Regions from separate parts of the Homo sapiens genome. Here region 1 is linked to region 2. The links come from fine-mapping of genetic effects on gene expression. A gene starts in region 2. The other region holds a variant in brackets. All regions are shown on one strand. Distances are between the middles of the regions.

Region 1 (15,886 bases), 20 kb before region 2:
TTTTATATGTCTTTGGGATACTGGGAGACTATCTTTTTCAGATAACTTTAGAAATCTCTCCCAATTATTGGATTTTATGGGTTGGGAATCTAATCGTTTCTGTGCAGTAATTCTGACTGCCCTTTCCAGTTGTTTATTTTACACATAAAGGTGCACCGAAAGGCTGTGGGCTCCAGTTACAAATCCAGCTCTGTCACTGACAGTCTCTGTGATCCTGGGCCAAGATCTCGCCCTCTCTGTGTCTTAGTTTCCTCTCTGTAAACTGGGGATGATAATAATGTTATCTCAGAAGGTTATATCTCGGAACAATGTCTGTTCCCAAGATAAAGCTATAAATGGTAGCCATGAATATTTTCAGGTTCAAAATAGTCTATTTGTAACTTTGTACCCTATGGTTGTTTAATTTCATGAGTTTTTTGAGGATGTCCCCAAACCAGGATATCTCTGCTTGAGCTGTGTCCCTCAAACATTCTGAGCACAGTTAACCTGCCGCATCTCTGAAGACGCTGATGTTGGTTCAGGCCAAGGCTAGATGAAGAGTCTTGGGATCTCACACTTTTTGGTCTCCACTCCCATTTTCAAAGAGATGGTTTGGGATTATTATAACCAAGAAGTTACAGAGCTAATACATATAAGATATCTTGTCCACTGTTTTGAGCTGAGACAGCCCCTCTTAAGTTTGCTATAATTCGCATACACAACTCAATAGGGAAATCTGATCCTTATGCTTTTTGTTCTAAATATAGTTTTGTATATTTAGAACAAAGAAATCTTTTTGTAAATCTGTAACAAATAGAATTTGATGTACCTTTGAGTGCCTTTATAAATAATCCTAAAGTTGCCACACCACAATCGAGCAAATGGATTTCAAAGCTGTACTTTTAAGTCTGCCTCTGGAAAGGAAGCGTTTCTTAAGGCAAATATTATTGGGGCTGCCTCACTGCAGTGGTACTGGGTGCCTAGTTTCAAGTGATTCTTTCCTGGCTAGCTGGTTTCCTACGTGGGCTGCTACTGGGCATACTCCAAGACGTTACTTAATCACATCTGTGAGAACATTACTTAAAGAGTACATGTCCCAGCTGTGGCTAATCTGTTGCGTTTTTTTGAGAAGCAGAATGTATTCTTAGGTCAGCATTAAAATAAGCATATTACTCATTAATCATTAAAAGCCACTGAGCTTGAGATCATCAAAAGAATATTACTTAAAATAAAAGTATTTTCTTTTGAGCAGCATTCAGAGCACAGAATATTGCCTTCAAATCTTCTTATGTAATGTTTTACGTTGCAACTCATAATAACCCAGACTTTGGAATAACACTTGTCCAGTCAACGGATCCCTCCCTTGGAGGCAGTTGGTTTTATTTAGTTTTATAGCATCTCTTTCATCACCCATGCAGGAACAACTATAAGTGCAGGCCACGTTGCTAGTTACCTTGCCAGAAACATCCCTCAACATAAAAAAAGAGTTAATTCCACCTCTAAGATGTGTCCATTTTGCCTAGTCATTTTTTCCTTTCACTTGAGTGCATGAGCAGATGCAATGGGTTGGATATGACAAGATGGCAGGAAAAGCCCTGATTCGGAAGCAGGAGATCAAGCCCAAGGCCCCTCAGTTGTTAGCAGGGTGAATATTGGCGAGTTATCTAATGTCTCAGGTAATCACTTTGCCTTTTGCTCCGACTCCCACAGGCTTGTTGTGGAGGAATAAAATAATTCCTTTGAAAACACCTGGGAAGGTTTTTTTTGAGGTAAGAGGGCACTATGCAATTGTGAGGAATAATGAAATATAACTCCATCAGAGACTCTCTCCCTACCTGCTGATGAAGTCGGCTAAGAGTTATTCTCTTCTTCATCTATTGGGGAGCATATGACAACCCAAACCAAAAATGACTATGATTGGGTGCAGTGGACAATTAATCCATGAGCTACTATGAAGGTACCTACCCAAGCTGAATGTGGATACAACTAGGATATATTTGAAGTTACCATAAAATAGTTATTCTAAAATCAGAGAATTCACATTCTGCTGTAGAGTTAATTGTGAGAGGGAGCGGGGTACAGGGGGTAGAGAAAATAAAGGAGAAAGGTGGGTAGAACATTTATTCAAGTTGGAGGAAAATGATGCAGGAGGACAATGGAAGGGACCCTGTGGAGGTAATCGTTGCCTTCGTACTAGGAAGCTGGCTGCTGAATCCAATGCTGAAGCACCATAACACAAGACAATCACAACTACAATCAATAATGAAAACAGAAATGGGGCAGCAAGATTAAGTGACTAGTCCAAGATCATACATATGGCAGAGAGCAGAGGTGGGATCCTTGTTGGACCCGAAAACCATCTTCTTAGCAACTACAAACCCAGCCTTCAGTGTAATCACTGGTGGAGGTCAAGGTTATCTACAGCAGGATCCCACAAATGAGGTTACTGAAGCTGTGTGTGGCAACTACCACATTATACCATGTTAGACCTACAAGAAACCACCATTCAGGTGCTTGGATGCTGACCAACACTGCACAGCCTTCCTACTGGATAGCAATTCTACAGGATACTATACACTCTGTAAGGACTATGTGTGTCCACATGAAAACTTTACATGATCCACAGAACACCAAGTTTAATCTATACAAGGATTCTCATAATGGAAAAACTAAGTATACATAGCCTGGAAGAATGGAAAAAAAACAAAAATAATTCATGTGGTAAGGTGCAAAATCATGGATGACTGATTCCATGAAAACTTGATGTAACTTTTGTCATAACGTTGTCAGTGTAACAGCATATTGTTTTTGGAGAGATTCTCCCATCTTGACCAGTGGTACTGGACCAGTGGCGGCCACAGATCACAAGCCGTTCCTGGTCATCCACACCACATCACACGTGTGAAATCTTGTGCTTCTGCTCCAGGTTCCAAGATGCACACTACTATGCAAATGCTGGGTAGACCTAAATATACTTACTCTTGCAACAATGCTTGCGGGGGGGACACTGAGTTCATTAAGGGGGGTGACATTTCTTCAGGATAATAATCTGTCCTCTGTGGTTCGATCCCAGGTTCTATTTTAATTTTTTTCTGTGATATAGGCTTCTCATATGATTCAATTACAGGTACTAAAAAATAAAAATAGAAAAGTCACTTCACGTACAGTTTACCAATTTCAGCTTTTAAAAGCTTACTGCATAGCTCCTACCTACAACACAGATATGACAGGTTTATTTGCCTTTGGCAGACTATAGCAGGAACAAATCTGTGGGAGATTCTCACCTCTCCTGACCATTATTTTGCCAGTAAGCAGCAAATATAGGGACCTAGATTATAAGACACCAGCCCTGAAATGATTCGTTCTTATAATTCTGGATTATTTCCTTTCAACCCCTTAGTCCTCTATGACCAGCTGATAAACAAGGTAGCTTTTGATCACCATTAGTTTTCACCACAATCAAAAAGGATTTATTAAATGCCTTTTGTACCTAGAACCATGTTGGTATTCAAGAAAGCAACATAAAGTCAAGATTCTTTCTATCCCCAAGTTGACCATTACATAGTGAAAGTAATCATGTCATGGTATCAAACAGACAGCCTGATTCTTGGGATCTCTTCCAGTATCAACACTTTGGGGGGGCGGGGGAAGGAAATGCCTTAGGCAGATGAGTATTTCCTTTGAAGAGTTCAACAGCTCTTGCCCCCATGCTTCCTCACCCACCCCATCTGGTGAAGCGCCAGTACGCTAAGCAAGTGCAGCAGCATGGAGCAGTGGCGGAATTTACCTTGCATGCTACTACTGGAATTTTCCATCTCCTCCGATAAGGAGACCATGAGAGGCTGCTGGAGGTGACTTGTGTACATAAAGGGGACGGGCTGCACCACCACCGGCTGGATGACGGGCAGGATCCCCGGGCTCCGTATTCCATGCCGCGAGAGGGCAGCTGCCATCACTGGTGGCATGGACAGCGGCACGCCGAAGGGCTGCACGCCTGGAGAAGGGGGTGAGTATTTTTTTATCGGTGGGCTGGAAGAAGGCATGCTCAACCCAGGCGAGGCTCTCCGGTGTGAGGACGGGAACTTCAGAGAGGAGGGCGAATTCCCAGCCGAAGGGGGTGAACTCCGCTTGTTCACCGTGAGGTCCACTGGCTCCATCTGTATTCCGTGCGACAGACCTTCTGGGGTCTGAAAGAACTTCTCAGGCAATGGTGTGGAGTAGATGACCCCATACTTGTTAGGCTTCATGGATTCCATGTAATTAGATGGGTATGACTATTAGAAAAGAAAAGGAAAACGTGTCAACAGCCAAATAAGTCCATTTACTTGAAACATGAATTAAGAAAAATATGCTAACAAGGCACTTAACAATTACATGGGCTTTACAAAATAGTTTAGATTTCGATATATATGTGACCTTAAAAAAATGCTCAAAGAGGTGGTCTCAACATTAAAAATGCTATGAGAGGCGGTCTCAAAAATATTAAAACTAAGATCAATGTGGTCACTACTGCAGATGAAAAATCTGAAATTTAATCCTAAGATGATTCCTGTGTCAAACATTAAGGCCGATACCTGGCAAAATTCTAAGACAGGTGATAGCACAGGCTTGGGGGCCATTATCATTAGGAGTCAGAGGTGGGCATCACAAGAACCAGTCAAGCCAAACCAACCTGGTTGCTTTTCTGGTGGGGTTTCTTGATGAGCAGGAAATGCTCTCTAGCTTTGATGTCTAACTTCGGCAGGACAGCTCTTTCTCAGGATAAGTAGTGTCTTCAACTTCAGCAGGACATTGATTTCTCATCATACTTGTGTATAATAAGCAAGAATGGGGCTGCAGGATAGGCAGTACCTTTCATTTGATGGGCTTCAGCAGCTGTACAATCCATGCCTAGGACTGGCCAACAATCCTAGTCAGCGTGGAACTGTGCTAGTTTCAGCACTGAAAGTCCCACATCCCATGAAACTCTACAGTCTCAGGCAAACCAGGAGGGGGTCAGTCACCATACACACCTTTGTACTGAAGGCCACCCTCACTGCGGCAATGATGTCCCTGGCCCTAACTTGCTCAGTGTTCTTATTCAGAATCTGAATGAAGCTGTAGACTTGAATGGCAAGTCTGTGGATGACACGGAACTATAAGAAACAGCTAACGTGATATGACTCACATAAGGAAATGTGGAGCTCAAAGTCATTCACACAAGCTGAGGCCCTGTGTTCTCTCCTCTATACCCTGCTACCCACTCATCAAATGAGGCTGGGGCACAAACAAGGGAGTGCAGAAGAGACAGAAGAGTCTGTTTCCTTCCCAAGATCTGGTCCACAACTGACCTCATTTATCTTCAAACACCTTTCTCTCTTTAAATATCAGGATAACCTAACTTTCATCTGCCAGCTTTAAATACAAACCAGTCATCATAATTTCACACAATGGGCACTATCCTTGACCATGGAGTTCACCTAAATTACTTCTATTCCTTAACTAACATTTTGTTGTAAATTTTCTTTGTAGAATGCAACCTAATTTTTAATTTAAAAAAATTAAACTCAACATAAACCATCATCTTTACTAGGCATTTTAGGGAAACTGAAATTTTGCATGTCAAGCCTGCTTACCTGCAGAAAATTCTTTGTACTTGAATGTCTGACAGTGACAGTGATAAACAACATATTGTGCTTCTCTTCCAGCTCTAAAACCCTATGTGTTTAAGAGTTAGAGGCAATACTAACTTGGGATGCAACCAAGAAAACCCAATGGTGCCTTGTAATTAAACAGCGTAAATGCACTATTAATTTCTGGGTCTCCTTGGCCCCTCTGGTGGCCACTATTGTGAGTTATGACTGTGGGGCAGCAGTGGTTTTGATAGGGATTCCTACTGAGATCACCCTCTTTCCTC[T/C]CTGGGCTTGGTCTGGGCGAATCCTCGGCTGGTTATGCATTGGAATCATCTGTGTTGTTTTTAAAATTCCAGATGCCCAGTCCCTGCTCCAGGCCTGCAGAGCAGCCTGTTAGGGAGGAGTCAGTCAGTGAAACTTTATCACATAACTGTGTTTATCTTTATCTGGTTTGGATGTCAGGTCCTCATGGTTAAGATCAAGGTTATGGGATAACCTACACAACGAGCTTATACACATGCCATCCTGGAAATCCCTTCTTGTCCCTGCTTATACAAGAGATGCTCACTGTCACGGGCTCTACTGCTCCCAACCAGAGTTTCTCAAACTTTACTGTGCACATCCATCTCCCTGGAGCACTCGTTAAAATGCAAATTTTGAATTACCGGGGAGTGGACCAAGGGAACTTAGGCTACCTTTTGAATAGCAATGCTCTAAATGACAGAGATAAAAAATAAAGATACTAAAGGTCTATTTAAAGGAGGGAAAAAGAATTTTCTTTTCTTTTTTTTTTTTTTTTTTTTGAGATAGGGTCTCACTGTTACTCAGGCTGGAGTGCAGTGGTATGATCATAGCTCACTGCAGCCTCGACCTCCTGGGCTCATATGATTCTCCCAACTCAGCCTCCAGAGGAAGTGGAACTACAGGCACATGACACCACGCCTCGCTAATTTTTGTATTTTTTTGTAGAGACTGGGTTTTGTCATGTTGTCCAGGCTGGTCTCGTACTCTTGGGCTCAAGTGATCTGCCTGCCTCAACCTCCCAAAGTTCTAGGATTACAGACATGAGCCACCACGCGCAGCCAGTTTTCACTACTAATACTGCTTAAAAACAAGAACATGAAGGATATAAAATCAGAAAACACAAAATGCATAAAAACAGCTTTGAGTTATAGATCAAGGATCAAATGAAGAAAAGATTCTCTACCTTTCTTTAAAGCCAGGCACGCACAGTACCAACGCAAGAGATCCAAAAGATAGCAACATTAAGTATTAAATAGATTTAAATTTAAATATTAAGATGGGTATTATTAAAAGAGGCACAAGGTTCATTAACAACACAACAAAATAAATCCATTATAAATCATGTACACTGGAGGGTTTCAGGGAGTAATTAAATATAGGAAGGAGAATGATTTCGCCTAGTCCTAAAGTCTAATGTGCTTTATATAATTCTCCAAAGGGCAATGGTTCTGGTACTAGGAAAAAACTTTAGGAAATGGGAGGCAGCATTGTTTCTATTGACGAAAATGTAGCTTCTCCCTTATTTTCAGCCCTGTTCTTCCAAGACCTCCCTATGACCTAGATTTTAATGCCAATAGTTATTGGCAGCTAAATGGGAAGCAAAATGAGGACACAGTTTTATTGCTGTCATTGCTGGATTTTTCTATGCATGGGGTGAGTTTTGGGAGAGTAGGAATTTAGAACCTCCAGATTTGCAAATCTAATAATATTCTCAGGTTTCTCAAGCCATTAAGACAGAAAAAGCCACACATAAAGCTAAGCTTTATCAACATTATGCAGTTTGCTGATAAGTCTGTTCTCAAATGAATGCCCTCATTCCCTCTATTGGATGTGCGATTATTGTAAGGTACAAGACTAACTGTGGGGAGAGACACATTTGGACACAGACACCCAACTCTGGGCAGATAATTAACTGTTTCCAGCCCAACTGCCTCACAAAAGGGTGAAGACATGTGGTCCCTCAAGCTGGTTCACTTTATTTGGGTGGCACACACAAGCTTTTGCAATCAGCTTCCAACAATCTGGTGCCGTGTAGGGACTGACACGGCAGGGTGTGTGCTCTGGGCAGGTACAACCTGGTAACAGTCTTCCCCGCTCTGTTCCAGACAGTTCCTATGTTCTATCAAAGCAATGCATACAAGCACGGCTGTACTGGCCCCATATCCAAATCAGAGACAAATGTTGATGAAGCAAAAAATGTGCCTCTGGCCACGGATGGACCTCCAGTGCCCTCTGTGCATGCTGCTTAGTCCAAGAGACCCTGTGTCCTGGAACAGAGCAGTCCAAAGACAAGACACAGACATGGGTCTTTCCCGCTTCTGCCTCTGGCCCCCACTAGGGATCTTAAGGGCTTAAAACAATGGGCTGGGCCAGGCATGGTGGCTCACACTTTTAACTCCAGCACTTGGAGAGGCTGAGGCAGGAGGATATCTTAAGGCCGAGAGTTTGAGACCAGCCTGGGCAACATAATGAGATCCTGTCTCTACAGAAAAAAACAAAAATGTAGCGGGGCATGGTGGTGCTTGCTTGTAGTCCCAGCTACTGGGGAGGCTGAGGGAGGAGGATTGCTTGAACCCAGGCGTTTGAGGTTGCAGTGATCTTGCTACTGCATTCCAGCCTGGGCAACAGGGCAATACCTTGTCTCAAAACCAAAACCAAACCAAAAAAAAAAAAAAAAAAAACACAAAAAACCAAAACAAAAAAACCTCCACAAAACCACTGATCTGCTATAAGAGTTATTTCCGTCTGTAACATGTACTCAGATGTTCACACCCCTGCACAGTGTGCATTTACTTATTGACTGCTGCTTCTCACTGCACTGTGAGGTGATGAGGGCCTGCAATAGGTGCTCAATTAATACTTGATGAATGTGTAGTAAATTGACACACTCTCTTAGCAGGTTTTTATTACTGATAAGGTGAAGAATAATATACTAATTATTTTGAACTTTGAAAAAATGATTTTAATTGCAACAGGGAAAGAGGTACCATGTTTGGATAATTTCCCAAAGCTCTATCACTTTATGCTAAGGTGATAATTGCAATAGTTTCTCATTTTATGAGGAATAGTTTTGGCGAGCTTTCCATTATAAGACAGTTTCAGTGGACGGAATGACGGAAACATGGATGAAATCTCTATTTCACTATTCCTCAACATGAAAAAAAGTGAATGTCCATTACAGGTCAAGTCAAAAGAATCTTCATCCAAGAGAGGGTTCCAGGCACAGGAAGGCATGGTGCGTGTATAAACACACACTCTGGGAAGAGCAAATGGCATGCACCCCCATGCAAACAGAGGTAGAAAGCTCTCTTTCCACCAGGCTTGAAAAAGCCATGAAAAGTTTCTGTTAGAAAAGAGCAGAGGAAATTACTGATGTGACATACTTTCCTATCTATAAGGAGTCTGTTAGATGACTGAAGATAACAGAATATTATTAATCCTTTCTTCAAAAGTAATCTTTCCACAGGAATAGAAGAATACTTTTAAAGTTTGTTTTTTGATTTGTTTTGTTTTTTTACAATTTGTTTCCTTGCTCACTTCCTGAATTAAATCCTTTAATTTTCAATCTTTTGGGAAATGGTAAAAAAAAAAATTTATGTACATGCGCATTTTTTTACACACAGTTTCATATTTTATAATTTTTTCAAAAAAAAAAAACAGAAGCTCGGGGAGCTGCTGGTGATTTTGCCAACACTGGGTGGATGTAAGTAGCAGAGACTGAAGGCACAGACTTGGGGAGGGAGAGTCTCCTCTGTTCCTCATTCTAGCAAATTTTAACAGGGTGACCCCAAGCCTCAAAGCACAAGGCTAGTGGAGAACAGTATGAGGGCTTATATTTGATTAAGAGGGAAATGACATGTCCTCACTTTCTCTAACCTATAGCAAAAGCACAAACAAGCGATTGTTTCTGCTGTGCTATCCTTTTAGGGGGTGGGAAGAGGGGGAGAAATAAGTTACCATAAAATATTTTTATTCATCTATAGAAATTAAAAATACTTTTACAAATGTCCTATTGTGCCTTAATGTTTACAACGTTGACTTGAATAGCGAAAGACTTTTACCTTCAGATCAAAGACTGAATTAAAAAGAAAAAGGAATAATAAATTAGGTTCAATATACTTCACCTATGAAGGCAGGAAAGACGAAATTTGAACACTTAAGAGTGGAAACAAAAGCTTTTTAATTTGTTTAAGTAAAATCATTTTAACACCCCACTGCTCAAATGTTTCTGTTAACTGAGGTTGCACTGAATTAAGAAAAAAATACTTCCTGCTGAAGAAAGTTAAAACCAAAAAAAGAAAAAGAAAAAAAAACACCTTCATTTTAAAGGACTGACAGTAACTTTTGGTGAAACTAAATTCTAAAAGTGTCAGCTGCAGTTGAAATCTAGCACATGAAGGAGAAAAAGACCATTAACTGCAAAATCAGTTCTACATATTTTAACTTCATGTATTACTACGTTACAACAATACAAGTTTAACAGTTACTTCAAATTCATTTTATTCCACATTTTTTTTTTCGGTTAAGTGCATTTCCTTGCACTTAATTATATATATCACACCAATTTAGCAATGTGGATCTTCATTTTAGCTTTATATTAGACTCTTGAGCCTTATGTTCATGCTTGATTAAAAGCACTGGAGGTACATTGAACAGTAAAATGCCTCACTGATGGCTCTGCACCAATTGTAAAATGAATCATATTCTCCAGTGCTAAAAACCTATTCCTATTTCAAGAATATAACTAATGGGGAAATTTTATACCTTCATTTTCCTCTAACGTGATCATGTAGTGATGCCGGGGAGGGGGATTTGATGAATACAATGACAGCACTGAATAACATTCGAAGTAATTTAGTTTTTTGGCCAGGAGCGGTGGCTCATGCCTGTAATCCCAGCACTTTGGGAGGCTGAGGTGGGTGGATTATCTGAGGTCAGGAGTTCAAGACCAGCCTGGCCAACATGGTGAAACCTGGCCTATACTGAAAATACAAAAATTAGCCGGGCGTGGTGGCATGCGCCTGTAATCCCAGCTACTATGGTGGCTGAGGCAGGAGAATCACTTGAACCTGGGAGGCGGAGGTTGCAGTGAGCTGAGGTCACACCACTGCACTCCCGCCTAGGCGACAGAGTGAGACTCCATCTCAAAAAGTAATTTAGTTTTTTGATTAATAAAATCCTTATTGCTCAGTTGCTACCATATTCAGACACTTGGTTATTCAGTTATCATGCTGGAATGTAAATGTTATTTCCTTAAAGCCCCTCTGACTTAACTTGCATTATAGATACTGGTAAACACTTTACTGGCTTAGTAATATCCATGGCAACTCAGCTCCAAGGGCCTCGGCGTGACCCCCGTGTCTTGTATAAACATTTTTGGCAGGAACCTCCAGAGCCCATGCACAAGGATGATCTAATTTTGCAAGCGTGTCATTACCAACCTTCAGATACACACCTCGGGCCAAGTTTTCCCCCTTGTGAATATTTTCCAAGCCCGTGGAAGAAAAGAGCAAGACAGAGTGGGAGCATTGCCTTGTTATTCAATATTCACTCAACCAGAATCCTCAAGTTGAAACCACTCCCTGCTCTGAAGTCAGACACCTTCCTCTGTCACCATGTCTCACCTTCATGGCACTGGTGTTGTACCTGCAGAAACCCCAGACTCCTCACTAGTCCCTGGCGGCCTAAAAGCAGCCAGTGGCCTGGCTCCCATGAGGGGCTGGCTTAGCGCTAAGGTGCTGAAAAGGACAATGAACGTAATTCCTACCCAGCCAGACTCTTCCAAGTAAACGAGATTCCGTCCTCACTGCCAAGTCTTTCTCTCGCTGGCTTCCCTCAGTCATCTCATATAGTTACAGCTCCATATGGCTGTTGTCATTGGTTTTTAAGCAAATCATCCTATTCTTAATATATTTTTACACACAAAAGGGCTGAGGAATTTTTGTAAACTTACTTCTGTCATGAGAGGATTCACCTGTGGCCTAAGTTCTATGCTGATCATATCTTAGGGGGACACCGGGCACGGGTCTTAAGGAAGCGCAGATCCCATTTAAAGGATCCACAGCTGCTAGGACAGTATTTAGCTCACTCATACCTGGTGGCGTTGAGAAAAGTTTGCCTATGAAATGCCTGTCAAGCAATGAGTGATTTTTTTTTTTTTTTTGAGACGGACTTTCGCTCTTGTTGCCCAGGCTGGAGTGCAATGGTGCGATCTCTGCTATCTCGGCTCACTGTAACCTACATCTCCCGGGTTCAAGCGACTCTCCTGCCTCAGCCTCCCGAGTAGCTGGGATTACAGGCATGTGCCACCACGCCCGGCTAATTTGGTATTTTTAGTAGAGACGGGGTTTCTTCATGTTGGTCAGGCTGGTCTCAAACTCCCGACCTCAGGTGATCCTCCCGCCTCGGTCTCCCAAAGTGCTGGGATTACAGGCGTGAGCCACCACGCCCGGCCATGATTTCAAGGAATAATTCAACACACAATAATGTTATCATCACTTGGAAAAAATAAGGCGAGGTGTTCAATCTTGGAAAACTTACCACTGAGACAGGGTCCATGGCCTCTTGCTTGACAGGAACTGGGTCAAACATGAGCATTCTTTTAGTTAAACCTTCTAGGGTGCTCTGGTGTTTGGCCTAGAAAACAAAACAAGGTATCCATCTAAGTCTCAAGGTTACTTTAAATACAAACTAGTAAAAATAAAATATAGCCTGGGCAAGGTGGCTCACCCCTGTAATCCCAGCACTTTGAGAGGCTGAGGCAGACGGATCGCCTGAGGTCAGGAGTTCAAGACCAGCCTGGCCAACATGGTGAAACCCCGTCTCCACTAAAAATGCAAAAATTAGCTGGGCGTGATGGCACTCGTCTATAATCCCAGCTACTCGGAAGGCTGAGGCAGGAGAATCGCTTGAACCCAGGAGGCGGAGGTTGCAGTGAGCCGAAATGGCACCGCTGCACTCCAGCCTGGGTGATGGAGCGAGGCACTACCTCAAAAAAAAAACATAAATAAATAAATAATAAAATGAAATATAATACCTCACCCCACTTCTCTACTCCTTTTTCTCCCCTACCCCTGGAATGGCTGGAATTTGTTTCCCTTACCTATGAAAGATGCCATTTACATAATTAAAACCAGACTCCATGGTCATAACCAGATGAGAGCCAACCAGCATTTCTAACTCAATACAGAAACCCTGACTTTTCTGGAACACTATGTACAGCCCCTTCTGAGCGCCAAAGCTTGCTTGGGATTGCCGTGCAACTCTTTAGGGGTTCAGATTACATATGACCGTTAAACACCTTCCCTTTTCCCCGATGTTGGTCGCAGAAAAATTAGGGGAAAAAAAGACGAGCAAAAAGAAAACCTAGAACCAACCATCATTAAAATTTCATTTTTATTCTAACAAACCCTCTTTAAAACTGGGCTCATAGTGTACATGGTATTTAGTACCTATCATTTCACTGAACAATTTATGTGAAAATGTTTCTTTTACAGTAAGTATGGTTCTGCACCAAGTATGGTTCTGCACCATCAAATCCCCCGTGCCACTGTGTGAACACATCAGTTTACTTAACTTCTTCCTCTTTATTAGGCACTTAGGGTTGCTTCTAAGTTTTCGCCATTACGAACAGCAATGAGCCTCTTTAAATATATCCTCCTGCACACCATTAATTTTTAGGATAAGTTTTCTGTAGGGGAATTCCTGGGTGAGAAGTATATACATTTCCCAAAGCGCCTGATGCCATCACCTGGCAAAGACGAACTATTATTTTCATTAATAAAATACAACCTGTTTCCCCAAACCTCCACCAGCAACATGTGTTATCACTTGTGTTATAAAAGATAAACACCTTGCCAACTTGTTAAGTCTCAAGATGGCAAATGATTTTTATTCTAAATTGATTTGGTTATTGAAGTTATTTTTTTTCAGCTCTATTGACCATTTGGATTTCTTCTTTTGAGAAATGCCTACTTAGGGCTTGACAGCCTCCACCACTTCTTATTGTTTTCTAAGCACTTTTCACATATGAAGAATATTAGCTTGTTTTCACTCAGATTTCTCCTCATTAGGAAATGAGCCTATTGTAAAGGAAATGTCCACCTTGATCCTGTCCTGTCTTTTTCTTCTGTTGTTCTCTGCTTGCCATCCCTTCTATTTTCTTCTGTGTTCTGTACAGTCCACTTCTAACACTAATCTACATCAAGCCAACTGCTTCTTCACAGGACAAAATATTCAGTCTGCTCAATGTTCAAATGTGTCTCCTCAGTTACAGAAACACTGTCCTGCTACTAGACACACTTTCAGAAATCGACTTCAGGCACTCATTAGCCAAATTTGGTTTAAGTGCTCAGTGCTTTGGTTAGAGGTAAGGTCTTCATAGATCACCCTGGTTTGAGTGGCAAAGTGAACAAGTTCTAGAGTGAGTTCCAGCTGAAGAAGCTGCAGGAATCCCGGGTTCTGGATTCCTTCTTGTATTTCAGTGTTAAAAACCCCCATCCCCACCTCCATGATAGCAATCCTATAATTTGTTGTGTTGGTGCTCTACGGGTTATACTAAGATATCTTCATATACAATGATGGAAGTGATACTATGTCGTTCTTGTGCTTCGTTGATTCATTGAAGAAAGCCTGTTTTGAATCTCATGACAACACACGAATTTCATCAATAACTCGACATAAGGCCTTGACTTCAAAATTATATTTTCCTCCATCACAGGGTGTATTGTAATCTGCAAACACAATTTGATACCAAGCTGCTCAAATCAATAGTGCTACTACCCTCTTATGTATTCCAGCAAGAACTAACCGCAACAGCCAGTGAAAAATAGATGATTTCGTAATGAGGGATGAAAACGCTTTTGTGTCTTGGGATCTATTATTAAGCAGTTCCCAGACTAGCAGCTGTACGGATGAACATGGTTCTAAGAATTGTTGTCCAGTGCCTCACAGTGGACCATAAACAAAAGATGTGAGATCTCCTGCTTACATCAATGAGGTCAGATCATTTAGCAGCCCTGACTCACGGCTGGTCACCCTGTGGCAGCCTCCCACCTCCTCACCCCCAGCTTTTTACACTGAATTCACTCTTCCAGACTCATCTATCCCACTAGAGAGTATCTTGATGCAAATGCTTCTAAATTAAAGCATTCACATTCTCAGGTGTATAAGGAAGGAGCCATGGTTTTGAGACTCAAGCAGGCTGCAAACTAACGCAGCCATGGGGCAAGAGTGATCATTTGTAAAATGCAGAGCATGGCTCCCTATCTGCTTCTCAAGGATTTAGGTCTATCAAGTGAGATTAAAACACACACACACACACACACACACACACACACACACACTCCTTTTGCCCTCATTTATATCCATATGCACATAAAATCTGGATGTATATTCTGTACACACAACACTAAATGTGTTGGTTCCAACTTCCGGAGCAAAAATGTCTGGCGTTTGCCTCTTTGCTAACATACACTAGCCTTAGAGGTCTATCCCCCACCCTTAAATAAAACTCTGACTAGATTCAGTTTCAAAGTTAACAGCTGCCTACATCCTGTATGAGGTCTCATATAAGGCCTTGTCACTTCACAACTGTACCACTGCAACAACAGCTTCTGAGCGAGGCCAGCATCTCCCCACTTCATGTCATCCTGCACGCTTTACGACCACTAATTGCAGCACAGCAGAATAAATTAAGATGATGGGCTCTGGAGTTCCTTTTCGTTCAAATTCTAAGTCTACCATTTAGCTCACATAGCTTTCAATGACTTTGTCTAATGCCCACAGCAACGACTACTGAATCCTTTTAGAAATGAATTACACATTAATGTGCTACATCTTTTTATCATTAAGACATTATTTAAATCACTATTGTTCTTTAATTTTTTGTTTTATCTAAGTTTAAGGAAATGCAAGACTTGTAATCCTAAGAGAAACATAGTCTAGTATAAAACGCTGGCACTGACTGGGCGTGGTGGCTCATGCCTGTAATTCCAGCACTTTGGGAGGCCGAGGCGGGTGGATCACTGAGGATAGGAGATTGAGACCAGCCTTGCCGACGTGGTGAAACCCCGTTTCTACTAAACATACAACAAATTAGCCAGGTGTGGTGGCGCACACCTGCAATCCCAGCTATTCGGGAGGCTGAGGCAGTATAATCGCTTGAACCCAGCAGGCGGAGGTTGCAGTGAGCCCAAATAGCACCACTGCACTCAGCTTGGGCAACAAAAGCGAAACTCTGGTCTCAAAAAAAAAAAAAAAAAAAAACACAC
Region 2 (15,886 bases):
TGGCCCAAACCAACCCTACCCCTCCTTGTTCCTGCCTCTAAGGCTGCCCCCTCCCCGCCTCCCATTGGCCTTATTTTCTGGTCCTTCACCATGGAAACCTAGAGGCCATCTCTGAAGCCTTCCTCACCTCCTTTGCTCTCCCCTCCTGCCTTGGGGGCCAGGCCCTCAGCGCCTCCCACCTGCATTGCTGCAGCTTTTCCACCACTGGTCTCCCTCAGCCTCTCCAGTCCAGCCCTCACCCCTTGCCACCCACGTTTTTCACAGATCTCTTCTCATCCCATCCTTCTCCAGCTCACAACCTTCCCTCCCGTGCACTCCCCGGGTCTGACAGTGGGCTCAGGCACCCATGCTTGGCACCCCGTTACCCACGAGCTGCCCCCTGCTCCAACAAGTGCCCTTCATGCCGGCTGCCCTGCCCACCCCCAGGCCTTTGTTCATTTTTGGCCCTGATGCTGGGCAACCGGCAATGGAATGCCCCCTCCCCTTCCGGCTTATCTAAATCCCCCTAATTCTTCAAAGACCAGCTCAAGGCCCTCCCCACTCTGTGCAGCCAGCTGATTGCTCCCTGGGGGATCCAAGGCCGCCTCTTCTTACCTAGATAGTCTAGGCCTCTTAGCTTTCCCAGTGGTGCGTCCCACACCGCCACCAGTACTGGGAAGGACAGACAGGCAGGCCTCAGCCTTCCTGAGAGGGCTCCCTCCCCACTCCCCACAGGAGATCGGGCTTGTTCCCTGAATGAAGTTTTTATGTCAAGCCTAAGGAGCTAACATAAGAGCACTTAGCTTATAGTAGGAGTTCCACAATCATCTCCCTTTCCCTCTGAATGCACTTGAAATCTCCCTTAAACAAGTAATAGGGATGAAGGGCCTAACTCTAAGGGAGACCTAGTAAACCAAACTTCCTAAGGAAAAGTTATTGCCCCTAACCTTAGCCTGGCCCATCATGTGTACTCCAGAGACCTTATTAGTACCATCTTCAAATAATTTATTATTATCCACTCAGTGAGGTCTTCTAAACAAGTCTAGTGTCGAGGTCTCTACTGTACTTTAAAATCTAAAATAGAAAAAAGAAAGCGAGAAAGGGAGGAGAGGAGGCAGGTGGGGGGGAACTGCAAGGGGAAGGGGTGTGTGCACAAACACAGGTTTTTGAAAAGGGATCAAGGAAGGCAAGGGGCTAAGTGATGTCACAGGTTTCCTGCCAATCACCACCACCTTCGTGATTGGCAATCCCCAGGCGCTGTTTAATGTCAATGAGGTGGTTACTACCTTCCCGTTTTACTGAAAAGAACACTGAAACAGAGAGGTCAAGTAACCTGCCTAACATCACACAGCTGCTAACTCGTAGAGCCAGGACTTGAACCCAAGGTAGTCTGACTTAAGACTGGTGGCCTTGGCACACCACTCTTCCACCTCCCCAGGCAGAGGACAACATTACACCACCAACAGTAAGTACATGATAGTGATTTCTGTGAACAGGTTGGTCCCCGGAGAAGACAGAACGTGGGGACAGTCTGTTTACATTAGTGACAGTTTCCACTCCTTCCAACTGGCCCCTGCTGCCCACCCTGTCTCAGTACGCACACTTGGATGCAAGATCAAAAGACACATTCTGAAGGCCCCAAATTAGGCAATTATTCTTCCTAGCCAGTGCACCTGCATTGTCGATATAACTGCTGAGAAAAATTGGCAGCTTGACCCAAGTAAATACGGAAATCCTCATAATAACTGCACAAAGGTGGAAGGGTCAGGTCCTCATCCCCATTTTAGAAATGAGGAAATGGAGGAACAGAGGTGAAATGACTCGCCCAATTTCACAGAGCTGGTTGGAGCTGCAGCCAGGAACAGAAGCGTGTCTGCCTGCAGACCCGGGCACTTTCTGTTCTGCTTCAGAGCCTGTGCTGTGGGACCGACTTTTAGGTAAAATCGCCTAATGCTGGGGTCTTTCCCCAGTAGGGAGGGTGTGGGTGTGCACAGCCACACTGGCCCATGGGAAGCAGTGCCAGGGGGAGGTTCCAGCAGGCAATTAAGATTTCAAAATGCCTTTTCAGGTTAGATCACTGTAGATCTACTCCATCCTATGGCATAACTCAGAGTAATGATTGCACATAATTTGAGATTAGCTCTAATAAGTAGGTACTCAATAAATACTTGTGAGATGAATAAATGAATGGATGTCAAACTACACTTCTCACATGCTAGGATAAATTAAGGGCAAGGGCCCTGGAATGATGGTACACCAGGTGTCCTACATGGAAACTCTGTCCAGCGGCTGGTGAAGCCAGCCTGAAACCTCATCTTCTAAAATGCAAAGTAAATGTGAAAACTTTGGGAGCCTGGGAGAGAAAAACTCCCTGGTTTGGAAACTCAGCGGAACAGGAACTCGATCTTACAAATGAAAGAGGCTTTGGAGTGTGAAGCTTTGGAAGGTACCAGGGATGCAAAGTACAGGAACAGATAAAGGAGTGGATTTCAGTGATTACACTTAAACAACAGTGGTAGTAGAAAGAACAGCATATAGGCCAGAGAAAAAACCCCACACTTGATTTGCAGGTCGCTCTCCAGGGCAGAATCCGCTGACCTCAATACTCATTTGATCTCTTATGTCCAGATTTGGCCAAACTCCACTGATTTGGGTTGAGACTAGCTCTGGGCCATCCCTGGCAGGATCCACAAGCCTTCCAGAGACTGGCAACCATCCTGAGGATGTCCCAGACTAAGCAGGGCAATTCTGGGTCCTCCTGCAAAGGGTCTGCCTCAGGGAGCGCCCCCTTACAGGAAACAGGGTAAGAGCCAGACCCAGGGGTTACATGAAATGCATGGGCTAGAGGGCCACTTAACTTGCTCTCTTCTGTCTCCAGCCCTTCTAAATAATTAGATGGAGAAATGATAATGAATTCAGCCTGCCGACACAATGGAGTGAGTTTCAAAAACCTCCAGGAGCCTGTTTTGCTAAAGAAACAATTTTACTACAAACTCTCTGGCCAACGGATACAAAATGCACAGATCATTTTTTTATTTTCTTACTGTTCCAGAGAATATGGTCACATTCATTACAGAATAAGGACAAGGCCAGTTAAGAGGACATCTTTTTTTTTTTTTTTTTTTTTTTTTTTTTTGAGACAGAGTCTCACTCTTGTTGCCCAGGCTGCAGTGCAGTGGCACAATCTCGGCTCACTGCAACCTCCACCTCCCAGGTTCAGGCAATTCTCCTGCCTCAGCCTCCTGAGTAGCTGGGATTACAGGCGCCCACCACCACGCCCGGATAATTTTTGTACTTTTAGTAAAGATGGGGTTTTGCCATGTTGGCTAGGCTGGTCTCGAACTCCTGACCTCAGGTGATCCACCCACTTCGGCCTCCCAAAGTGCTGAAATTACAGGTGTGAGCCACCGCGCCCGGCCGAGGACACTATTTTTTTGCTTTGGAAGAAATGAATCCTAGTTTTGGTTCAGAAACTGTCAACAGCATTGTGCCTCTTCTATGACTACTAAATTTCAAGCAAAGAGAGCTGAGTTGGGGGTAAAAGCAGGGCTATTCCCCGCCTTCAGACAATGCTGTCCCTTATCAGGGCAGACTGCTGTCTGGTTTCCTGTCTCCAGCTCGGGCATGACTGCTTAAGATGAGAAACATGGTCTAAGAAAGGAACAGAGTGGTCTTGAAAATGAGAATGCTAGCGACCACCATAACCCTCTTCCAACTCACTCCCAAGAGGAATTCTGACTAGAATATCACATACTAGCAAACTAGATATCAATTGTTTTAAGATTCTAGGGATTTGCTTTTTTAAAAAGCTAGAACCAATGATAAATGATGCACTTCAGAAAGAATCCAAGTTCCAGAATAATGTAATTGTAATTCCTAGTACCTTAAAGAATGAGGTTGTGTGTATTTTATTTTTCTTAAACTCAACTGGGTGTGAAAACAGAGAACAAGAAATGCTGCCTAAGAAATCTGTCGTTTTATAGCAAAAATGTTGATTTGAAAATATTAAGAAGGCAAGTATCTCAAGGGGCGATGGAGACACAATGAAATTAAATTAGGAATCATGATTTATATGGTTAAGAAATTAAAACTCTTGTTCCCATCTTTCTGGTAATCATAGCAACTATAAGATAGGATAATTTTCCCCAACTATTCAGCTTAGCATTTAGAAGCTTGCAGAATTTTTTTCTGATAGAATATATTAGACCCTAATTATCTCTATTAACCACTTCATCTCCCTGCAAAAGAGAGAAGAAAGAATTTGGGGAAAGCCAAATAAAGACTCTGTTTACCAAACCTAGTTAGATTGTTAACAACTTTGGAACCAAAACAAACAAAAAAACCTGCTTCGATTGGAGTTACTTATGAATTTTAAGCTTAAAAGTCTCTTGTCCTACAGGTCAGCTAAGTATTTCCAGCTGCTTTTCCCAAAGGAGAAAGAAGTTATTGGGACTTCTAAAACTCCCAGCTTTTTTCATAGAAGGTTATCAGTAGCCAACTATTTGATACTAATAACTCTCTTAATATCATATTTTATATTTTCCATTTATACATAAAGAATGTGGTGGAATGTGACATTTAAAACGCACCATTATCATCAATTTTGGGGAGAAGAGAGCCTGATTTGCTGCTTCAGCAACTCTTTAAATTAATTCCACAGAGATGCTGTAGATGATTCCTTTTGATTAAAAAAAAAAAATCCCCAAGTAAGTTTACAAAAGCACTTTCCAAAACTTTTCTTTTTCAAGCAAATATTTCCTTAAATCTTAGTTTCTCAAGAACCAACAGAAAACTAATATTAAGGCAGGTCTTAAATAGTTATCCTAGAAATTCATTAACCCACAACTGATAGAATATTTTTAAAAAATGAAAAATATTATTGTAAAACAAAAATGAGAAGAGCATTCTTCTTGTTTTCAAAATAGAAGATTAAAATTTTCCAAACAATCTAGCATTAAATGAATTTGTTAATGCCAGTTCTCCTTTGAGCTTTTTAATTCTTAAAAACGGGTTGGAAATGAGGTGTAGAATATTGCACAGTGAAATCTTTGTCCTTAAAACATTATCCTGATATTTAAATCTTTGTCCTTAAAAAGAAATAATCCCGGGATTTTCTCAATGTCTTAGGCTTTGCTTCAATGATTTTTCTAAAGATTTCTCCTTCCAAACATAAGCAAGACTTAAACTAAAGCCAGGCTGCCAACATTGCTTAAATTCTCCATCCACGGAAGCCACCTGGAGCAGCCTGGGTTAAACGTGAACGAGGGTGGGCCACATCTTTCAGATAATGCTAGGTCTTCTAAACTGTAAGGTGTTAATCCTGATCCAAAATTGACAGCTTCAGGGCAAAATGCCTATCTTAAAACAAACGCCCTAACCACTTCAACACAAGAATTACAAACAAATACAAACAAAACTCCTTTAGGTTTCTTTGCCAGGATGGACCCACGTTTCCCCAAATCACAATCTAGCAATAAAAAATTTAAAAAGGTAAAAGCATTTATTCACCCAGACAAATGCAGTGGAGCAAAGGGTGTACGTAAAAAGGTTAACTGACTTCTCATTATGACATAACACAGGCGTCTTAAGCAATATCAAGTGTGTAGAGACATGATAACTCCATGGGTGGGGATACGGAGTTTAGGGGCAGGGACCTCAGCCTGGTCTGGGCTACTGATCTACCAGAAAACAGCCTGAAACAGGAAAGAGCACACATATGCCACTTGGAATGTATGACGCAAACCCCAGCCTTGAAACAAAGAACAGGAAACAGCTCTGCTGGCTGTGCTGGAGAGAAAGCACAGAGAAACATTTAGCCGGCCCTCCCTGACCCTATATTCATGAGCAGCTGGAGTTTTTTAAGACAACAACAGGGGGGTGGAGGTGTTTGTTCTACGGGTGTGAATAATAACACCAGCTTTATACAGGGGACCTGCCCTATTTACAAATAAGAGCTGCCACATACAGTAAACATCATAAGTGAAATGTGATTTTATCATATTCAAGCAGCAGAGACCTTCCTAATGAACACTAGCCTCCCTCCTGATTTCTTTTGTCCCTTTCTGCCCCATTCCAATGGCTAGTCCCTAGCTCAGATCAAATTCCGAGTTAGGGTAATGATTATGGTTCAGCCTCAGTGCATCAAGAGGAAAAAAGATAGAGCACTGCTGTTAGGAATTCAGATTACAATTGGGGTACCCCACAGAACCAAAATTGGAGCAACTGTAAGCCTCCTTTAGTCACAGAACTAAATTCCAAGACAGACTGTGGGACATCTACAGTAACCCAAAATTTTCACTGTCTTTTTCAAATGCAGTTATACACATCTTTGCAGAGCTGCTCATCTGTTCAACATATACACACGTTTATAGAAATTCGCCTTTTAAGAATGTGATTCTGTTCCTGACATTTATCTAAAAATTATTATGCAATCTGTACACCAGAGTACTAATTTCTAGAAGTCATTCTAAAATGTCTATTTTCCCTTTGGGTTATTTTTAAGATAGTAAAATCCATTCACAGTTCCTTTCCCATTATTTCTCTTTACTTTGTTAGCCAGGACTGTTTAACTCAAGCTTACGTTATCAGAGATTTAAGAATGTGGTGTGTGCAGACTAAGTACAGGTAAGGAAAAAAAAAAAGAAAAAAAAAGGAAAAAAAGAGCATCACTGTGCCCATAGCAACAAGAAGATTGGGTTTTAATTTAGAAACTTTGCAGTGAATAAAACAATAGCTTTCTGCAAAACTCTGTTGTCGTTTTGTACCTGACAAGGTTTTGTGGTCTAAGCAGTTACTTTTCTTTGTTATTCCCATGTTGAGATTTTTGTACTTGCATTCCCTTTCATGCAAGCTAAATGTTCTTTACAATGTATCATCATTGAACTTACCGATAGTACATTAGGTTTTTTTCTTCTAATAAATAGTTCTGCAGCAAAGCCCACTGACTGCAGAAATGAAGATACCAGTTTCTCTAGGGAGTTTAATTTAATCGAACATCTAATTTCAGGTTTCTATTAACAGCCTAAGGTCAACTAACATACCTCTTTTCAAACCAGAAGAAATCACTCGTGGACACTTTCCTTAAACACTATTACTAACTCCAAAAAATTTGTAGATATTAATGCTAGCAGATTGTTTTTTCCCCTAAAAGCAAGTCTTCTTCCCTAGGGTGAGGCAGATCATCCAGATGAATTTCTCTTATAAAAATGCTCCTCAAATTCGTACAGAAAAGGATAGCACAAAACTGCTGTGTGGAAAAACCTATAATGAACAACTGGCCTATTCCCCACTTGATTTTGCTGGCACATTTCAGGTACTTGTCAGAATACCACTTCATACTTTTTCCCATATACCAGACTCTTGTGAGAATATAATCAATATATTTAAAATGTCTTGGGTGATATTAATGGAAACATAAATTCTGAGTAAGAAATTCAGTGGTTAAGTGTAAAATGTTTATTTTAGTGAAATACAAGAAGGTGAGCAATTTCCAATTTCCGTTTAACTTGACTTATTAAAAATAAGTCTCATTCACATTCTTCTAGTATTATTGTATACTGCTATAAAATTTAAACCAGAAAAGTGCTTCTCCTTGTCAGTAGCTATCTGCCCAAAAAAATGAATATGACAATTCCAGATCTCATCTGCCATCTCTAAGAAAGCCACTTGGAAATGTTAGGTAGGTCCCATGGGTCCTGATCCAGGGATCTGTCCCTGGGTCCCCATCAGGCTCGGCTGCAGGCAGTTGCCTAAGGCGTCTTCCGCCTTCAGCCACGCTGCAATCCTTGCTCCAGGCACTGCGGCAGGTTCTCTCCATGCCCCCAGGAAGACTCTCCAAACCCGACCAGCTCATTTCTCCTGCCCCGGAGGATCCAGACGCCCTGGCAGCTCCTGGGCTCCAGAACCGAGAATGGGATGCTGCCTCCAATCCCAATTGCCCTAAGTTTCTTTCCAGAGGGCCGGGAGACTGCTCCAAGTTTGCTGTGGCGGGCGAGCGGCCGCGCGCCGTGTCCTGGGAGGGGGGCGGCGGGGGGCGCGGGCGGAGGGAGGGGAGGGGAAGGACGCGGGAGCCTGGGTTGTGGTGGTGGTGGGGGGGCACCGGGAGGGGGAGGAGCAGGAGCGCGCGGCCGCGGCGCTACCTTTCTCCAAACAACGTTGCCACACGCGGAGAGCACGGAGATTTCTGGGGCTTTGGAGGGAATCGTGAGCGGGCGGGAGGAGGCCGGGGACCACACAGGTGAGCCCCCGCCCGCGCCCTGCCCGGGACGGCGGCGGGCGCTGCCAGCCCCGCTCCCCCGCACCCGGGGTCCGCACGGTGCCTCGCCTCAACCCCTCACTTTTCACCGCGAACCCGTGACCCCCTCCTCCTTGCTTGCTCTCCGCCCCCACCCCGGCTAAGTGTAGCCGCCACACTTTCCCAAGCCCGCAGGCGCCCCCCCCAACACCAGCGCTGCACCCCCGACCCATTCCCCGCGGCCCCCTCCAGGAGAAAAAATGAAACCAGACTGGCCGAGGAGGGGGGCGGCAGGGACCAGGGTGCGGAGCAGAGGTGAGGGAGACGGGACTTACTTTGCGAGGCGCGGTGCAGGGCGCCGCCGACGAGAAATAAAGGCCCCGATACGGGCTGCCTGGAGCCCCCCGAGCGCAGCAATGTCAGGGCTCCAGTCCGGGCGGCGTTGGCGGCCGCAGGGGACGGGGACGGGCGCGCGTGCGGCGGGCGCTCTCGCTGCGCTCCGGCTCGGGCCCCGGCTCCGCGCGGCTCCGCTCCTGGCTCCCCTCTGGCTCCTGGCACCAACTCCGGGCAGTCACATGACGCCGGCGCCGCTCGCTCTGCGAGCCTCCCGGGGCTGGCGGGGTAAGTAGAGGCTGGGACCCGGGGTGGGAGGGTCAGGGAGGGGAGAGGGAGCCGCCGCGGCCGCCCGGGCTGGGCGGGTCCCCACCCACTTGGGTGGAGGCAGCCGCCGGAGGGGTCGGCCGAGTCACTCGCGCAAACACGCACCCCGCCCTGCGCCCTTCCCCCGCCACCCCCGCCTCCCGCGCCGCCTCCGCCCCGCCCCGCCCAGTCACCCGGGGACGGCCTGACAGACACTCATTATTCCCCGGAGCCGGGCGCCGCCCCGCCGGCCCAACCTGTCCCACGAGGCGCGGCGCGGCCGTGGGGCTGGGCGTGCGCGGCGCGGCCTCCGCCCCCCGCCCGCGTCCCCGCCCGCGTCCCCTCCCCGCGCCCTCCTCCCCGGAGTCCGCGCCCCGCCAGCCCTCCCGCCCGGCCCAGCCGCCGCGCCGCCGCCCGAGCCCGGGGGGAAGGAAGGGCGGCGCTGCCCGCTCCGGGCGTCACACGGCTGCGGCCCGCTGCGCTGCTTCCAAAACACACAGCCGGGCTCGCGGGCGAGCCGAGGCGGGGGGCGCGGGCTGCCAGGGCCATCGATCAGCCGGCTCCAGCGGGAAGGGCGGCCCCGGGCGCGGCGGGAAGGGCTGGGCCCCGCGGCCGGCGCGGCGCGGCGCGGCCCCTCCTCGGCTGAGCGCACTCAGCTCACTGCAAGAGAAAAGCCGAGCCGAGGCGGCCGCGGTGCAGGAGCGAGTGGGCCGGGCGGGTTCGGGAGGGGAAGAGCGGCCGCTGGGGCGCGCCGAGCCTCCCTGGCCCCGAGTCGCCGGGGTCAGGGGACACCCTGTAGGCGCGCTCTTTCTTTGTGCCCTGGGGCGACGGGTCCCCCTGGCCGGCGGCCCAGGCGGCGCCCCCCACCTCGTGGGACTTTTCTTTGAAGGCCCGGAGACCCCTGGGGCAAAACTCCCACGGGCCAGGCCTGCCGCTGGAGCTAAAAAGCGGCATTTGCGCAGTTGGGCTTGCCTGGAAACTTGGCAAACTTTGGTCGGATCCTCCCCTGCAGAGCGAGGGCCTGGCCTGGCGACCCCCTCATTTCAAGTCGCTTCTAGGGACCTAGCGCCCTAAGCTCAGTGGCCTTCAGGGTGCTGCGAGCGAGCGGGGCGGCACAAAAGCGCGTTCGGTCCAAGCCAGGCCCCTTCGAGGACTTTGTGTAGATTGGTACCTAAGTTTAATGCCTTTTGAGTTTCTTTTTAAACAGTATTAATGTAATAATTAATGTAATAAAAAGAACAAAGGACGAATTCGTTCGATTGTTTTAAGTTCTGTGTAATGTTTAAAACCGCCCCTGCTTCAGTGTATGGCTTATTATTGCTTCAAGATGTTTTAAAGGCCCTTTAAGTTGACCCATCTCGCTTTGATGCTTCATCCAGACATCGTGCTGCTTAAAACGGAGTGATAATAGTATATTTCGAGCCGCTTCATGTAGCTACACAGTATTGTAAAATTAGTACTCGGTAACCTCAAGTAGTGAAATCGCATATTTTAAATAACGCAAGTCCAGGAAAGGCCACGTGGAGGATACCCAGAACCGACGCCGGCTCATGGGACGTCGTGCTGTCCCATAAGCTTCATCTTTAAAATGTAAAGGGTGTGAGTTTTTTTTTTCTTCATAATGAATAAAAGACATTCCAGAAAAAAAAAGAGTTGGATTCGTGTCAATTACTAATTGCCATTTATTGATCACTGACATCATTAAATGGCTGATTGGCTGCCTTAAGGTTTGCATTAGCGGAACACCGTGCTAGGAATGGCTGGTGAAACTGGCTCATAGTAGGTGCTCAAAAAAGTACGTTTTTTTCTCCAGGGACACAGTGACGAGAACTTGAAGCACATAAACCATGTTTTTTACCTTGTTCATGTGGGTGTGGACGCAAAGGGGAAGAGCGAAATAGGCCTGTCGGAGAAAAGTGTGACCCAAGATAAGAAGGGAGTGGTTTTGATATGGAAGGGGCAGGCGGCAAAGGAGAAGAAAAGCCATTTTAAACAGTTAATTAGTGAACACTGTGTTCGGTGCCCTGTGGGAAGCTGCTCAAATGCAACTTGTCGGAAATGAATCTATCTAGTGCTGGGTAGCTCAGTGAAGGACACCATCATTCTTCAAAGTGCCCAACAGGGTGGGGCGCGGTCGCTCACGCCTGTAATCCCAGCACTTTGGGAGGCCGAGTTGGGTGGATCACTTGAGGCCAGGAGTTCGAGACCAGTCTGGCCAAGTTGGCGAAACATCGTCTCTACGGAAATTACAAAAATTAGGCATGGCGGCGCACGCCTGTAATCCTAGCTATGTAGGGAGGCTGAGACAGGGTGATTGCTTGAATTCAAGAGGTGGAGGTTGTAGTGAGCTGAGATCATGTCACCACTGAACAGAGTGAGACTCTGTCAAAAAAAAAAAAAAAACCAAAACAAAACAAAAAAAAAACAAAACCCCAACAGAAGCACCTAAGCCTTTCTTCTCGCTAGCAGGGCATAGCCCATGTTTCACTGAGTCCTGGACCTCCTTGGTCACTACCCACTCTCTGGCCACTATGCTGGCCCAGCCTGTTGCCACCATGTCTTGTTGGTCATCCTGTCATCCTGTTTGTAGTATGGGCTGAAGCATGAAAAAGGCATTGGAGCACGGGAGTAAGAGTGCCCTTTCCAAAATGCAAGCCTGATCGTGTCAGTCCCTTCAATGGCTTCCCATAGGATGAAGTCCTAAGCTTTCCACCCCTGCTGGCCTGGCCTCTGCCTGTCATTACAGACACTTCTTCCTCTTCTCTCTTCCTACTCTTTTCCAGCAACGCTGAACTTCTTTCCGTTCCTTTCTTCCAACTCTCTCTTCCCACCTCTGGCCCTTTGCACATGCTCATTTTTCTAGGTAGAAAAGCCTTGTCTTCTCAACCTGACCTCTACTCCCATTTCCCTAAATTCTATACATCGTTTCAGTCTTGACTTAAATGACATTTTCTCCAAATATGTATTCTCTCACTGCACCTTTGGACAAGTTGAGGTGCTCTGGTAACATCTAGTGGGGCGTGATGGGAGATGTTTGGGTCATGGGAGTGGATCCTCCTATTTCCCCTCTTGTAACACTTTCCGTTCTTGTAGTTGGCTATTTAATGATCTCTCTGTGGCACTAGACTGGAAACTCTATGAGGGCAGGGACCTTGTCTTTTCAGCAAAAATGTATTCCCAGGGCCCAGATGTTCAATGAATATTTGTCAAAGGAATAAATGTGGTTTATGAGTTGCGAGGAGGGAGGAGTCATTCTGAGCTGAAGAGGTGAGTGGGGGCTATAGGGAGGCAAGTGGCAGTGAACTATACCTCCATCAGTCCAGGGGCTTTGAAATGGTGAAGAGGAGGGAAGAGGGAGTTACCCCCCCTGAGTGCTTTTAAGCAACAGAGTGAGATAGTAAAAGCGATGCCTGGGTCTTTTTAAAATTCCTAACACTAGCACAGTGCCTGGAACATGGTCAGGTGTTCAGTAAATCCTACATGACAATCTCAAGTGTGATCTTTGTGGTAGCTGCTTTGCGCTTTTTCCTTGCTGACAGCAGGCCAGTCTGGTTTAGGTGTGGGAAGCCTATCCTCAGTGGAGGATACCCATGCCTGGTCCCAGCAGAGGAACCCTGGTTACTCCCAGCCAATCCCAGTGTCTTTTGCCAGTGACTGGTTGGAGGGTAGGTATGCAACCTAGTTCTAGCAAGTGGGACATGAAGGGAAGTGTGCTGGGGTTTTTTTCCTGATACAAGGAAATCCCCAGACCTGCTTTGGAAGCTGTTAGGTGAGGATGTGATGCTTGAAGCTGTAGTAGCCATCTTGTATTCGTGAGAGAAAGCCAACGTTTCCGTTTCCATGTGGATAGTTTTTTTTTTTTTCAAGTCATTCTGTTTTCAGCTCAAATGTTGCCTCCTCAGGAATGACTTCCTTGACCACACAATTTAAAACATACCCCCCTTCCTCTTTGCTATGGTTCAGATATTTGTCCTTTCCAAATCTCGTGTCAAAATTTGATCCTCAGCGTTGGAGATGGGGCCTGATGGGAGGTGTTCGGGTCATGGGAGTGGATCCTTCATGGATAGATGAACACTCTCCCTGAGGATGGGGAATAAGTGAACACTTCCTATGTTAGTTTCGGAGAAAGCTGATTCTTGAAAAGAGCCTGGGCTAGGCCTGGTGGCTCACGCCTGTAATCTCAGCACTTTGGGAGGCCGAGGTGGGCAGATCACCTGAGGTTAGGAGTTTGAGACCAGCCTGGCCAGCGTGATGAAACCCCATCTCTACTACAAATACAAAAAAAGATAGAAGCCAGGTGTGGTGGTGGGCGCCTGTAATCCCAGCTACTTGGGAGGCTGAGGCAGAAGAATCGATTGAACCTGGGAGGCGGAGGTTGCAGTGAGCTGAGACTGCACTGTTGCACTTCTGCCTGGGCAACAAGGGCAAAACTCTGTCTCAAAAAAAAAACAACCGAGCCTGGCACTTCCCTCCTGGCTCTCTTGTTTCTCTCTTGCCCTGTGATCTCTGCACACACTGGCTCCCCTTCACCTTCTGCCATGCAAGGAAGGAGCCTTCCAACCAGCAGAACAGTGAGCCAAATAAATGTGTTTTCTTTATAAGTTACCCAGCCTCAGGTGTTTCCTTTACAGCAACACGAAATGGACTAATATGCCCATTCATTGTTTAGTCATTGTCCTATTTTCTTTTCTTTTTTTGTATATCGTTAACTAAAAACCCCCTTTCTTTTTTTGTTTATTTGCTACCTTTTTTTCTTATTAGGATGTGAGCTCTGTGAGAGCAGGGACATTGTTTTATTCACTTTTTCTCAAGCTTCTAGAACAGTGTCTGACAAATAGAAGTAGAAGGTGTTCCATAAGTATTTGTTAATTAATGTATGACAGCTAAGCTACCCCAGGACAATAACACCATGTTGAAATGGATTCAGGGGCTAGTGGACACAAGCCACTGCAAACCTCCACTTTCTCTTTTGTGACTTACATCACAGTATATCCCATCTCAGGCAGTCTCTTCCTGCTACACAAATACATTTTCTTGAGATTTCTTATTTCTTTTCCAATCTACTTTAGAGCTTTTCTATTTCTTCCCAGGGCATTTCTCCTCCTCGTGTGATGACAGACAAAGCTACCAAGGCAGAAAAGTGTCATGTGCTTGTGAATTTACGAGCAGCACAGATACATTTACCTTAAAGGAAAACAAAGCTATATGATTTGAAGTAAAATTAGAAATGCTAGTCTAAGAATTATCCATCTCTAAAACATTACAAAAGGTGTGGAGATTCTCTGCATCATCTCTGCAAGTTTCCACCTTTATTATCTATCCATCCATCTAATTTAGAATTGCCAGGAAATACCGAGGTTGAGTTAGGTGACCATGAGTTCTGGTGAAGATCAGACTGGATGTATGATCCACTCCCACCTCCAGAAGCTCTCAGCATTTCTAGTGCAGGTGGACAGTTGTCTTGGATTGTGTTTGGCAGGACAGTGCAATCCAAGGACAGTGGCACAGTGGAAATGTTGGTTCTTGGGACCTAACTCAGAGAGGTAAAACAGAATAAGGCTGTAGAGAAATAGCCAAGGGATTGGTGAACTGGACATTCCAAATAGGTTGAAGAATGGGTGTCTTGGGAATAATGGAGTGAGTGACCTGGAAGGTTAGGAGGTGAGTTGTCAGAGAATGGGGACCTACCTGTAAGTTTAGTATTTAGAGGTGAAGCAGTCCTAGGGGATGGTGCGGTCCAGGGAGTGCCTGCGGAAGTGGGAGAACTAGAAGGGAGTGGAGAAGATCCCTGAAGATGAAGAGATGAGTGAAAAGAGTGACTGGGGTGTTAAACATGGTTCCTTGTGGATCCTGAAATTACTCAGAGCTATGGGCAGAGTAAGACTTAGGCCCTCAAGTCATGTCTTAATTCCATTAAAAAAAAAAAAAAATGTCTGAGAAACATGGAAGATAGCCACCAGGAGAGAATGGTTAGAAGATATCCTTTTTCTATAGTTAAATCTGCTTTCCTTGAATCATGATTATTCAAATTAAAAATAATCACTTGGGCTGGGTGTGGTGGCTCACACCTGTAATCCCAGCACTTTGAGAGGCTGAGGCAGACAGATCATCTGAGGTCAGGAGTTTGAGACCAACCTGGCCAACATGGTGAAACCCTGTCTCTACTAAAAATATAAGCATTAGCCGGGCGCTGTGGCATGCGCCTGTAATCCCAGCTACTCTGGAGGCTGAGGCAGAAGAATTGCTTGAACCCGGGAGGCGGAGCTTGCAGTGAGCCGAGATTGCATCACTGCACTCCAGCAGGGGCGACAGAGCAAGACTCCATCTCAAAAGAAAAAAAAAAAAAATCACGTGTATTTCATTGTTTATTGGTTATTTTGCAAGTAAAATATGTCAGTAGTTTTATTTTCTACTTTTTATTGAAAACATATTATTTCTTCTTTATTAAGAGTTTCAGTCAACTTTTGGAGACCTGTCAGAGACCTTAAAACATTATTTATACTATGACTTCAAAGCGAAATTATTTATAATTTCCAAATCAATGTCCTACACATACAAAGAGACTGCAACTTCTTGCTGAGTTGGAGACTACCTAGATTTTTCCTGTGCTGGTAGTCAGAGTAAGTAAAGAATGGGAGACCCACAAAGTAAGAAAAACTACCTCCCTTGTTTTGGAATGAGGCTGTTTTTCAACTATTTTGGAGTAAGGTGGACTCTTTATGTTTCCATCCCTCTCCTCTATGTTAAGGAATAATTATTGGCATTTAAATCTTGAATTTAATCTACTTCAGTTAGTATTGCTTGAACTTTTACCATAGGTCTCGGGTGGGGGTGATAGTGCAAGAAATATGTATGACATAATCCCTGCATTCAAGGAATTAGAGAGAATATATGTATTATTCTGCTTAATTATTACACAATGCAGAAATAATAATATAATGAATACAATTTATTTTATTTTATTTTATTTTATTTTATTTTATTTTATTTTATTTTTGAGACAGAATCTCATTCTGTTACCCAGGCTGGAGTGCA

What was found. PIP is the estimated chance that this variant, and not a neighbour inherited with it, causes the effect.
Region 1: its variant is the best candidate, but not a certain one, in a credible set for the expression of KLF3 in whole blood (TOPMed, PIP 0.50).

Annotation. Positions count from the first base shown.
Region 1 is chr4:38,676,952-38,692,837 of GRCh38, reverse strand. It overlaps KLF3 (KLF transcription factor 3), which reads right to left. Exons shown (of 6, transcript NM_016531.6): 2 at 12,156-12,251; 3 at 3,767-4,253; 4 at 2,959-3,109. The coding sequence starts at 12,212. Among named protein-coding and RNA genes, the nearest start is that of KLF3-AS1, 20 kb to the right of the region's middle. RefSeq lists cis regulatory regions at 4,622, 5,540 and enhancers at 4,538-4,707, 5,456-5,625. The variant T/C (reference allele first, on the strand shown) is at 5,876.
Region 2 is chr4:38,657,123-38,673,008 of GRCh38, reverse strand. It overlaps KLF3 (KLF transcription factor 3), which reads right to left and starts at 8,810. Exons shown (of 6, transcript NM_016531.6): 1 at 8,548-8,810. KLF3-AS1 (KLF3 antisense RNA 1) reads left to right here and starts at 8,116. Exons shown (of 16, transcript NR_171644.1): 1 at 8,116-8,215. RefSeq lists enhancers at 1-391, 5,647-5,696, 4,886-5,735, 5,736-6,586, 10,621-10,942 and 1 more, silencers at 8,070-8,419, 8,480-9,079, 9,090-9,359, 9,390-9,909 and a promoter at 8,548-9,350.